Linked DNA regions of Homo sapiens: region 2 is linked to region 1. Evidence: fine-mapped expression QTL. A gene starts in region 1. The other region holds a variant in brackets. All regions are shown on one strand. Distances are between the middles of the regions. Region 1 holds the start of NPR1 (natriuretic peptide receptor 1). Region 2 overlaps INTS3 (integrator complex subunit 3).

Evidence for each region. PIP is the estimated chance that this variant, and not a neighbour inherited with it, causes the effect. A credible set is the group of variants that fine-mapping cannot tell apart.
Region 2: its variant is the best candidate, but not a certain one, in a credible set for the expression of NPR1 in esophagus muscle (GTEx, PIP 0.52).

Annotation. Positions count from the first base shown.
Region 1 is chr1:153,676,294-153,681,813 of GRCh38, forward strand. It overlaps NPR1 (natriuretic peptide receptor 1), which reads left to right and starts at 2,395. Exons shown (of 22, transcript NM_000906.4): 1 at 2,395-3,536; 2 at 4,208-4,407; 3 at 4,887-5,000; 4 at 5,411-5,520. The coding sequence starts at 2,816. RefSeq lists enhancers at 1,632-2,613, 2,614-3,594 and a silencer at 3,136-3,195.
Region 2 is chr1:153,739,193-153,744,192 of GRCh38, forward strand. It overlaps INTS3 (integrator complex subunit 3), which reads left to right. Exons shown (of 30, transcript NM_023015.5): 2 at 1,459-1,542; 3 at 2,093-2,176. Among named protein-coding and RNA genes, the nearest start is that of INTS3, 14 kb to the left of the region's middle. The variant G/A (reference allele first, on the strand shown) is at 2,584.

The DNA of each region.
Region 1 (5,520 bases):
AGCTCCAGCTCCACTAGTCCGAGGCCTATCAGACACTTCCACTTGATTATCTATAGGCACCTCACATCCAATAAACTAAAAGTATCATCCTTCCAAAACCTTCTTCAGCTTCTCAGCTAATGGGATCAACATCACCTAGATCTGTTATTTGTATAATGTCCTCACTTCCCAAAGTTCAACTGATTCTACTTACAAAACATCTCCCCATCTGCATCTGCTGTCTACCTCTACAATCTCTGGAATCCGCCATCTCCATTACAGGACAAGAACATTATGCCTGTCACACAAAAGCTTTCATAATCTTCCCTCCACTGCCCTCTTCCCTGCCTCTCTTCCTCAGTCATCCTACATGCACACACCTTACATCCTAGATCAGGGCTGAAAACACAAACTCCTACTACAGCCAGGCAGGTAATGCACCTGAGTGAAGCAGGGTGCCTAGGAACCATAATGAACTAGACTCATTTCAAGGAGATAATGGATACTTGCTCTGGTTAATTGCTCATGGAGGGATGCAGGACAATATATTGCCAGCTCTTCCAATATTTTAAGGAAAGTCAGAAATCCAGGTTGGGCCTGGTGGCTCACACATGTTATCCAGGAATTTTGGGAGGCCAATGCAAGAGGATCGCTTGAGCCTAGGAGTTCAAGACCAGCCTGGGCAACATAGGGAGACCTCCATCTTTGAAGGAAAAAAAAAAAAAAGTCAGAAATCCAAATATTCATGTACCATCTTTTTTTTTTTTTTTTTTTTGAGACGGAGTCTTGCTCTGTTGCCCAGGCTGGAGTGCAGTGGCGCAATCTCGGCTCGTTGCAACCTCTGTCTCCCGGATTCAAGCAATTCTCTACCTCAGCCTCCCAAGTAGCTGGGATTACAGGCGGCCGCCACCATGTCTGGCTAATTTTTGTATTTTTAGTAGAGACGGGGTTTCACCATCTTGGCCAGGCTGATCTTGAACTCCTGACCTCATGATCCACCCACCCTGACCTCCCAAAGTGCTGGGATTAGAGGCTTGAGCCACCTTGCCCGGCCCCATCTTATGATATTTAAGTGTGGGGAATTAAATACAATATACATAAAGAGAATGCAAGCCAAAGCATGCCTGCCATCTCAAGTTGGCCTATCGACCACAATTTGCTCTAGATAATAAGAATATTCAAGTCTCCTAAAATTCCATATATAGGAAATGTACTTCAACATTCTGCTCTGTCTACACAGAATACCTTTCTCATCCTTCCATCCTCTTGAATTATTTCTTTTTTGGAGATTTTCTGGCCCCAATCCAAGCAGAATGAATAGCCCTCATCTGAGTCCTTTAGCAATTTATCCATGTCTCCCCTGTAGTGCTTAATGCATGTTGCATTACGGTTATTTGTCCCAAATGGAGCTCCTCAAAGGCACGGACTATATATATTCATCTTTATGCCCTCGGCACCTAGTGGGTGCTTAATGCACCGAAGGTTCTCTGGAAATGTTTGCTGACCTGAAGTTTGGTGATCTTATGTCCTGCTTAGGCGCAGCGTTGGAGAGGTTGGCGCTGCAATGCCGTCAATAACCCCCGATGACCATTAGAGGGCACACTGATTCCACAGCAGTCTGCACCGGGGGCCCAGCTGTCAAGTGCTCCAAAACCCACTCCCCAATTTACGCCTCCAGTGGTCATCTCCCACAGCCTTCATTTTAACAACCCTCAACACAAAACAGTCATTTTCTTGGGGCGTCCCTGAGGTGTGAACCTCCTCCCTCCCAGACACCCACCCACTCTCCCCATCTTCCTACAATTTGGGCGCTAAAGATTTAATTCCTCTCTGACACCAGATCATTTTTTCACAGCTAATCTGCACAGTCTGGAAGGTGGCAGGGAGGGAAAGAGAGGGAGATCATAGAAGGAATGGGTAACAAGCACTCTGGGCTCACCTTCAACTTTAACGGACTTTCCAGAAACCCGTCACCTTCCACCCCACACCCAAACACACACATCCACGCACTCACTCAGTTTCCTGCCAGGATCCCAAACCAGCACACCTTTCCCTCTTCCCCCGAGGAGACCAGGTAGGAGGCGAGGGAAAAGGTGGGGCGCAAGTGGGCCCCGGTTGCTTCCACACACACCCTCCGTTCAGCCGTCCTTTCCATCCCGGCGAGGGCGCACCTTCAGAGGGTCCTGTCCTCCAAAGAGGTAGGCGTGGGGCGGCCGAGACCGGGGAAGATGGTCCACGGGGAAGCGCGCGGGCTGGGCGGCGGGGAGGAAGGAGTTAAAGATCCTGGATTGGCTCTTCTGTCACTGAGTCTGGGAGGGGAAGCGGCTGGGAGGGAGGGTTCGGAGCTTGGCTCGGGTCCTCCACGGTTCCCTCCGGATAGCCGGAGACTTGGGCCGGCCGGACGCCCCTTCTGGCACACTCCCTGGGGCAGGCGCTCACGCACGCTACAAACACACACTCCTCTTTCCTCCCTCGCGCGCCCTCTCTCATCCTTCTTCACGAAGCGCTCACTCGCACCCTTTCTCTCTCTCTCTCTCTCTCTCTAACACGCACGCACACTCCCAGTTGTTCACACTCGGGTCCTCTCCAGCCCGACGTTCTCCTGGCACCCACCTGCTCCGCGGCGCCCTGCGCGCCCCCCTCGGTCGCGCCCCTTGCGCTCTCGGCCCAGACCGTCGCAGCTACAGGGGGCCTCGAGCCCCGGGGTGAGCGTCCCCGTCCCGCTCCTGCTCCTTCCCATAGGGACGCGCCTGATGCCTGGGACCGGCCGCTGAGCCCAAGGGGACCGAGGAGGCCATGGTAGGAGCGCTCGCCTGCTGCGGTGCCCGCTGAGGCCATGCCGGGGCCCCGGCGCCCCGCTGGCTCCCGCCTGCGCCTGCTCCTGCTCCTGCTGCTGCCGCCGCTGCTGCTGCTGCTCCGGGGCAGCCACGCGGGCAACCTGACGGTAGCCGTGGTACTGCCGCTGGCCAATACCTCGTACCCCTGGTCGTGGGCGCGCGTGGGACCCGCCGTGGAGCTGGCCCTGGCCCAGGTGAAGGCGCGCCCCGACTTGCTGCCGGGCTGGACGGTCCGCACGGTGCTGGGCAGCAGCGAAAACGCGCTGGGCGTCTGCTCCGACACCGCAGCGCCCCTGGCCGCGGTGGACCTCAAGTGGGAGCACAACCCCGCTGTGTTCCTGGGCCCCGGCTGCGTGTACGCCGCCGCCCCAGTGGGGCGCTTCACCGCGCACTGGCGGGTCCCGCTGCTGACCGCCGGCGCCCCGGCGCTGGGCTTCGGTGTCAAGGACGAGTATGCGCTGACCACCCGCGCGGGGCCCAGCTACGCCAAGCTGGGGGACTTCGTGGCGGCGCTGCACCGACGGCTGGGCTGGGAGCGCCAAGCGCTCATGCTCTACGCCTACCGGCCGGGTGACGAAGAGCACTGCTTCTTCCTCGTGGAGGGGCTGTTCATGCGGGTCCGCGACCGCCTCAATATTACGGTGGACCACCTGGAGTTCGCCGAGGACGACCTCAGCCACTACACCAGGCTGCTGCGGACCATGCCGCGCAAAGGCCGAGGTGAGACGCTGGCACACCCCGTCCCGCCGCTTAGCCGCAGGGCCTCCCCTCTGACCTGCCGGAGGCATCGGGACTTTCTCTCTCATCTGGGGGCACTCTTCTTTCTCCTCGCCGTTCTTCATTCTACTTTCAGCTCCCTGGCCCTTTCTACAGCTGAGTTTCTATTTCCCTCTCTTCTTCCGCCACCCCCACCACGTCTCTATCCTCTCATCTCCCCGACCCCCACTCATTCCCTCCCACCCTAGCACAGCTCGGTTCCGGTCCCTTTTTCCCTCCCACATTTTCTCTCTTCCCTATAGCCTTCTCCCTTCTTTCATCCTCTCCTCTCATTGCGCCTCATCCCCTCTCTTCTCCCCCTCCCTCTCCCTCCTCTCTCCCTCCTGGCCCCATCCTTCTCCACCTTCAGCTCCACTATCCCCCTCTCCCTACCCGTTCCTTCCTCCCTTCCGCCTCCCCCTTCCTCCTCCCGCCCACCGCCCCGCACCCGCCCGTTCCACCCTTCGACTTTCTCCTGCTGTGGCCTAGGCTGAGCCGGGAGTTACCACTTAACTCTCACTGGGTCTCTCCTGCACCCTATCTCTAAACTTCCTCCCTTGGGTGCCCCAGCTTTCCTACTCCTGTCTCTCCCGCAGTACCTAGGCTTCTCTCTCTGACTCTCCGTCTTTCTCCAGTTATCTACATCTGCAGCTCCCCTGATGCCTTCAGAACCCTCATGCTCCTGGCCCTGGAAGCTGGCTTGTGTGGGGAGGACTACGTTTTCTTCCACCTGGATATCTTTGGGCAAAGCCTGCAAGGTGGACAGGGCCCTGCTCCCCGCAGGCCCTGGGAGAGAGGGGATGGGCAGGATGTCAGTGCCCGCCAGGCCTTTCAGGTGAGTACCTAGGTTTGAAGCCCAGGCTGTCTCAGCTTGTGGCACATCATTTCTGGGCACTGTGTCCCTCAGCGTCTGAAAGAATTCCAGAAAAGAGGTTTTTGTCTGTTTGTTTCTTTATGCACTCCTGGTAACTCACAGAACAGAAAAGAGGTTGGTGATGCTCACTGGGAATTAGGCAATGAAGGGCAGGGGACTGCCCAGGGGCGCTTCGCCACCAGCAGGCTAAAAAGATAAGAAAATGGGCTTGAGGCGGGAGGAGGATAAAGTCCCACAGCCTGGACAGGACTTGGAGAAGGCATCCCATTGGATCCCCTGCTTTGGAATGGGCATCACTTCATGCAGGGCATAGGGTCCAGTTTGACCTTGAGCTAAGCAGAGACGCAGCTCTGGGAGGTGGGCTCCCAACTGTTGGGGCCCCACAGTACTAGGGAATAGTCAGCTCCCAACTCTCTGCTCTCCACTGACCCCTTTCTCAGGCTGCCAAAATCATTACATATAAAGACCCAGATAATCCCGAGTACTTGGAATTCCTGAAGCAGTTAAAACACCTGGCCTATGAGCAGTTCAACTTCACCATGGAGGATGGCCTGGTAAGAAGGGGTCCCGGGACCCTCCAGCGTGGACCTCCAGCCCCCACTCCATGACCCTCTGCCAGCCTCCATCCTTCCCTATTCCCAGTTCTCCCCTTCCTTCCCTCCCTTCCCATTGTTCCATGTTTCTCGTGATGATGGAGGAGGACACTGGCAAGTTCAGCCTCTGAAACTCAGGTCATCATCAGTAATATGGAGACGATACATCCTGCCCTGTCTACCTAGTAGGATTCAGGAAGTGATGCTAATCCAAAGGCATCGTTTAAATAGTAAAATCTCCCTGTGATATAGGGGTGTTATTTTCTCCCATCCTCTTCCAAAATCCCAGTGCCTCTTGTTCCCTTCCCCACAGCTCCCACCTCCATGCCCTTCATATGCCCACCCCAGCCGACCTCTGTTTGCCCCTACAGGTGAACACCATCCCAGCATCCTTCCACGACGGGCTCCTGCTCTATATCCAGGCAGTGACGGAGACTCTGGCACATGGGGGAACTGTTACTGATGGGGAGAACATCACTCA
Region 2 (5,000 bases), 63 kb after region 1:
AGCTGGGACTACAGGCGTGTGCCACAATGCCCAGCTAATTTTTGTATTTTTAGTAGAGACAGGGTTTTTTCACCATGTTGGCTAGGATAGTCTTGATCTCTTGACCTCGTGATCCACCCGCCTCGGCCTCCCAAAGTGCTGGGATTACAGGCGTGAGCCACCGCGCCCGGCCGGAGTTTCACTCTTGTTGCCCAGGCTGGAGTGCAATGATGCAATCTCGGCTCACCTCGACCTCTGCCTCCTGGGTTTAAGCAATTCTCCTGCCTCAGCCTCCCGAGTAGCTGGAATTACAGACATGTGCCACCATGCCAGGCTAATTTTTGTAGAGACGGGGTTTCTCCATGTTCGTCAGGCTGGTCTCGAACTCCCCACCTCTGGTGATCCAACCCCCTCGGCCTCCCAAAGTGCTGGGATTACAGGTGTGAACCACCGCACCCAGCTAATTTTTGTATTTTTAGTAGAGACAGGGTTTCACCATATTGGCCAGGCTGGTCTCGAACTCCTGACCTCGGGTGATCTGCCCACCTCAGCCTCCCAAAGTGCTGGGATTACAGGCGTGAGCCACTGCATCTGGCCTAAGTCCCTTTTATTTTATTTTCTTTATTAAAATATATTTTTTTGAGACAGAGTCTCGCTCTGTCGCCCAGGCTGGAGTGCAGTGGCATGATGTCTGCTCACTGCAACCTCTGCCTCCCGGGTTCAAGCAATTCTCCTGCCTCAGTCTCCTCCTCCTGAGTAGCTGGGATTACAGGCGCACACCACCATGCCCGGCTAATTTTTTGTATTTTTAGTAGAGACGGAGTTTCACATGTTGGTCAGGCTGGTCTTAAACTCCTGACCTTGTGATCCACCTGCCTCGGCCTCCCAAAGTGCTGGGATTACAGGTGTGAGCCACCGTGCCCGCCCTATTTTATTTTATTTTTTTGAGACAGGGTCTCGCTCTGTCACCCAGGCTGGAGTGCAATGGCGCGATCTCTGCTCACTGCTGCCTCTGCCTCCCGGGTTCCAGAGATTCTCCTGCCTCAGCCTCCCAGGTAGCTGGGATTACAGGTATGTGCCACTGCGCCTGGCTAATTTTTGCATTTTCAGTAGAGACGGGGTTTCACCGTGTTGGCCAGGCTGGTCTTGAACTCCTGACCTCAGGTGATCTGCCCACCTCGGCCTCCTAAAGTGCTAGGATTAGAGGCATGAGCCACCACGCCTGGCCCTAAGTCTCTTAATATATGGGTTTCCCTCACTTTTTTTCTTGCGATTTATGTGTTAAAGAAATCAGGTCACCTGTTTATGGTTTCCACATTTTAGATTTTGCTGGTTTTATCCTCATGGTGACTTTATAAGTAAACTGGCAGCTAGATCAATGGGCATGATCAGGTTTGAATTGTTAAACTTTTAGGGGCCCAGAAGTACTTCCTAAGTGGTGTTATGACACACTGTTCATTTTTTCTCACCCCTTCCCAGAGATTGGAAAGGTGTATGAGCATTGTGACATCGATGACTGCTGGTGTCTCGGAGAGAGAAGCCAATGATGCCCTCAATGCGTATGTAAGTAGAATGCTGTCCCTGCAGCCACTGCTGCTGCTGTGAAGGTCTTGAAACATGGTCAAAAAGATGGAAAGACTAAGTGGTTGGGGGTAGGGGACTGAAATTCATCAAGTCTTGGCTCCCTGAATCAAATTTCTCAATTCTTCTCTTTTACTGTGGGAGCCTATCTCTTGGAGCCTTGGGCATCTTTCAGTACAGCTTTTTATTTTTATAGCAATGTGGTCTCGCTATGTTGCCCAGGCTGGAATGCAGTGATTGTTCACAGGCATGATTATAGTGCACTATAGCCTTGAACTTCTGGGCTCAAGCGATCCTTCTGCTTCAGCCTCTGGAGTAGTTGGGACTACAGGTGTGCACCACCACACCTGTCGTCCTTATCTCTCTTCTTTTTTTAAAAATCTCTTTTAAGAGAAGGAAATCATCAGATTTAAAAGTTGATTATTCTCCTTTGCATCTTCCTTAGGAGTCCCATGTTTTCTGGGAGAAACTGAGTTTGAGAACTTACTGCCTGTGAGTGACAACTAGTTTGTTTTCCTTTCTCACATTCCAGGTGTGCAAAGGCCTCCCCCAGCATGAAGAAATCTGCCTGGGCCTGTTTACTCTCATCCTCACTGAACCTGCCCAAGCCCAGAAGGTAAGGCACCCTGCTCTGGACCCATAAACCCTCCTCATATATGATCTGGGATATGGTGGAACTTACAGTTTAACTGGGGTAGTATGAAACTCTTCGACCAGAGCTGGATCACCTTGTTCTCCAAATATAGTTACAAGTCCCTTTTTACTCAGTGAATTGGTCATCCTCTGACTAAAGTCCTTTCTCTATCTCCAGATTCTGAAGCTAAATGGCAGTCATGAAAGTGAAAAAACAGAGTTTTAAATTTTAAATTTATGAGGCAAGGCTAAAAGGGTTGGGATTAAATCCAGGGAATAGAAGAGAACAATTGTAACCAAGTCCATGAGAGTTCTTATCCAGAAGAGCATGGCCTGTAGTTTGCAGATTCTGCCATTGGCAGGTGAATAGAAAGCAGGCTTAAAATTTTA[G/A]TAGGTAGGATTTAGATGAGACAGCTTAATGTTACATGATTGATGCAGTAAATAATGTAGTGATTAGGAGAACACTGGAGTATACTGGAGTCAGACTTCCTGAGGAATATTGTATGAAAACTTGTCTGGGGTTCTTCACAAACTGAAGAGTCCCCTTTATGTGGAACGGTTCAAGTAGGTTCCCTCCTTGAGGTGAGGGACTAGGCAGGGTGATCTCTTTGAATTCTGTGAGATAACTTGGATGTCAGAGATGGTGTCATTTGTTCAAGGGGAACCAAAGGAAAATCATTTCCGGGGATAAGAACAGGATGCTCATGGTTCCTTGGCATAGCTGCTTGAATTAACCTCAAGGGAAGGATTTATGGGCATGGGAAACTGATCTGTTTGTACTTCTGATGCCAGCTGGAATAGGGTCTGGGGTGAGGGTGGGCAGTGAGGCAGCAAGTATTCACAAATTCTTGGTTTCCCAGGAAAGCCAAGCCCATTCTGGGCTGGGACCTTGTCGAGTTAAATTGCTGTTTCATTTTTATACTGAATTTATCATCAAGATCCTTGAAGACAAATGAATGTTTCCAGTTGGGTGGTTTTAAAGAGTGATATGATCCAGTCCAGCACATCCATTTTAAAGAAATTGTTGGCAAAGATGAGAGTAGATGGGATGGAGTTAAAGTTTAACTTCCTCTTGTGTGGGTTTTTTAATCTCTGTGTGTGTGTGTGTGTGTGTGTGTGTGTGCGTGCGCATCATTGGCTGTGTGTGGGTTTTTATAAATACCATTCAAATTCCATTTAGTCATCTCAGTGCAAATTAGTCTTGCCTGCTGGAAAGTTTTGTTTGTTTGTTTCAGGTGATCTGAACCAACCTGGGTAAATCAGTAAACCTAAGTGAAGGGGGCAGAGTATGTGTGGTATTTCTAGCTCTTTGCCTGGCCTATCAGTAAGAGGCCACTGGGTTCTGCAGTGTAAATGCTTATTATGTCATGAATTTGGCCATCCAGACACAGCAAGAGACTAGAGTATCTCCTCTTCTTTTTGCCCTATAACAGCCCCATGTGGGAGGCCCAGGCCCTCTGGGGAAGTGAAGCATTTGCCTCGGGTCTCATAGCTGGTTGACACCTTTGCTAGCATTCATGTTCACATGCTAAAAGTTTCCAAGTAAATCCCCTACCTGTGAGCCTTCCTGGGCCAAGCCTCCAGGTCAGGCCTCTTCAGACAAAGGCAGTAAAGACAGAATTAGGAGGACACAGTTTTAGGCGGGTGAGGAACTATCAAGTAGTGACTCATTCAGAGACCTTGAGCCAGGTCAGAGCATGATGGAAGAATTAGTGACGTATCTCCCTAGAGCTTTGCTCCTTCTCCCTAAAAGGGTGATTATTTTGTAAAAATACTTCTGTCCTACAGAAGTTTTAGGTGGGAGTTACTGATGAGGACTGATTGTAATGCATCATTTTAGGCTTCAGCTTAAAGCAATGGGACTGTTTTCTAAGGATTTGTATTTGGGGTTAATTCTGCCTTTGGAACAGAAACCTCAGGATGTATTTGAGATTTAGTTGTTCTTGAATCTTCATGGGCTGAGATGGGAAGTGGATATGGTGGAGAAGTGTGGAAACTGAGTCTTGAACAAATAGAATACTGCTATAAGGAAGGTTGAGCTGAGGAGCCTCTGTTAGTACTGGCAGGCAGGTTCAAGGAGTTAGGGCCAACTCTCTGGGACTTAGTGGGTGGGATTAGGATGGATTGAACAGGTGAACAAGAGAATTCAGTTAAGGAGAAAGCAGGTCAGTATTGGGAAAGAGTAGAGGATGCATGGGGTGGATTTTGTCTCACTTGTACCTTCTTGATTTGCATCAGCCCTCTTGGCAGCCCTTAGGAATGTTTATATCCTTTGAGTTTATTTATTTTCTATTTGGTGTCTGAACTAAACAGCTGGGAGCAGGCCTGGCTGGGGAACTGTGGCAAGGAGGGAGGCTAAGGTAGAGTCCTAAGCTGTGCAGGTGCTGGCAGTCAATAGATAAAGGTAATGGGAAAGGGTCTAATGTCAAGGTCTGTCTTCATCAAAGGGTCAAGGACTCAGGCCCAGGCAGCTCTTGGTCTAGGTATTTCTCCCAGCAGGCAGCTCTAGAAAGAAGCTTGGGGGCTCTGGGGCCTAGGCTGACACATCACTGCTCTTGACACATTCAGGATAGATGCCATCCAGTCACCAGTCACTTTTACTTTTCTTTGAGACTCTCCACTTCTCTTTTCCTCACTGAGGGTGTGCATGTGCGTGTGTGTGTGTGTGTGTGTGTGTGTGTGTGTGTGTGTGTGTGTTTCATCTGCTGCTTTTCCAAGCTGGTCAGCAAACCGACACAGAGGTCGGTAACACAACTGGCAGCCTTAGGTGTATGAAACTCTCGGTTCTCATTTGTTACCAGCAGTTG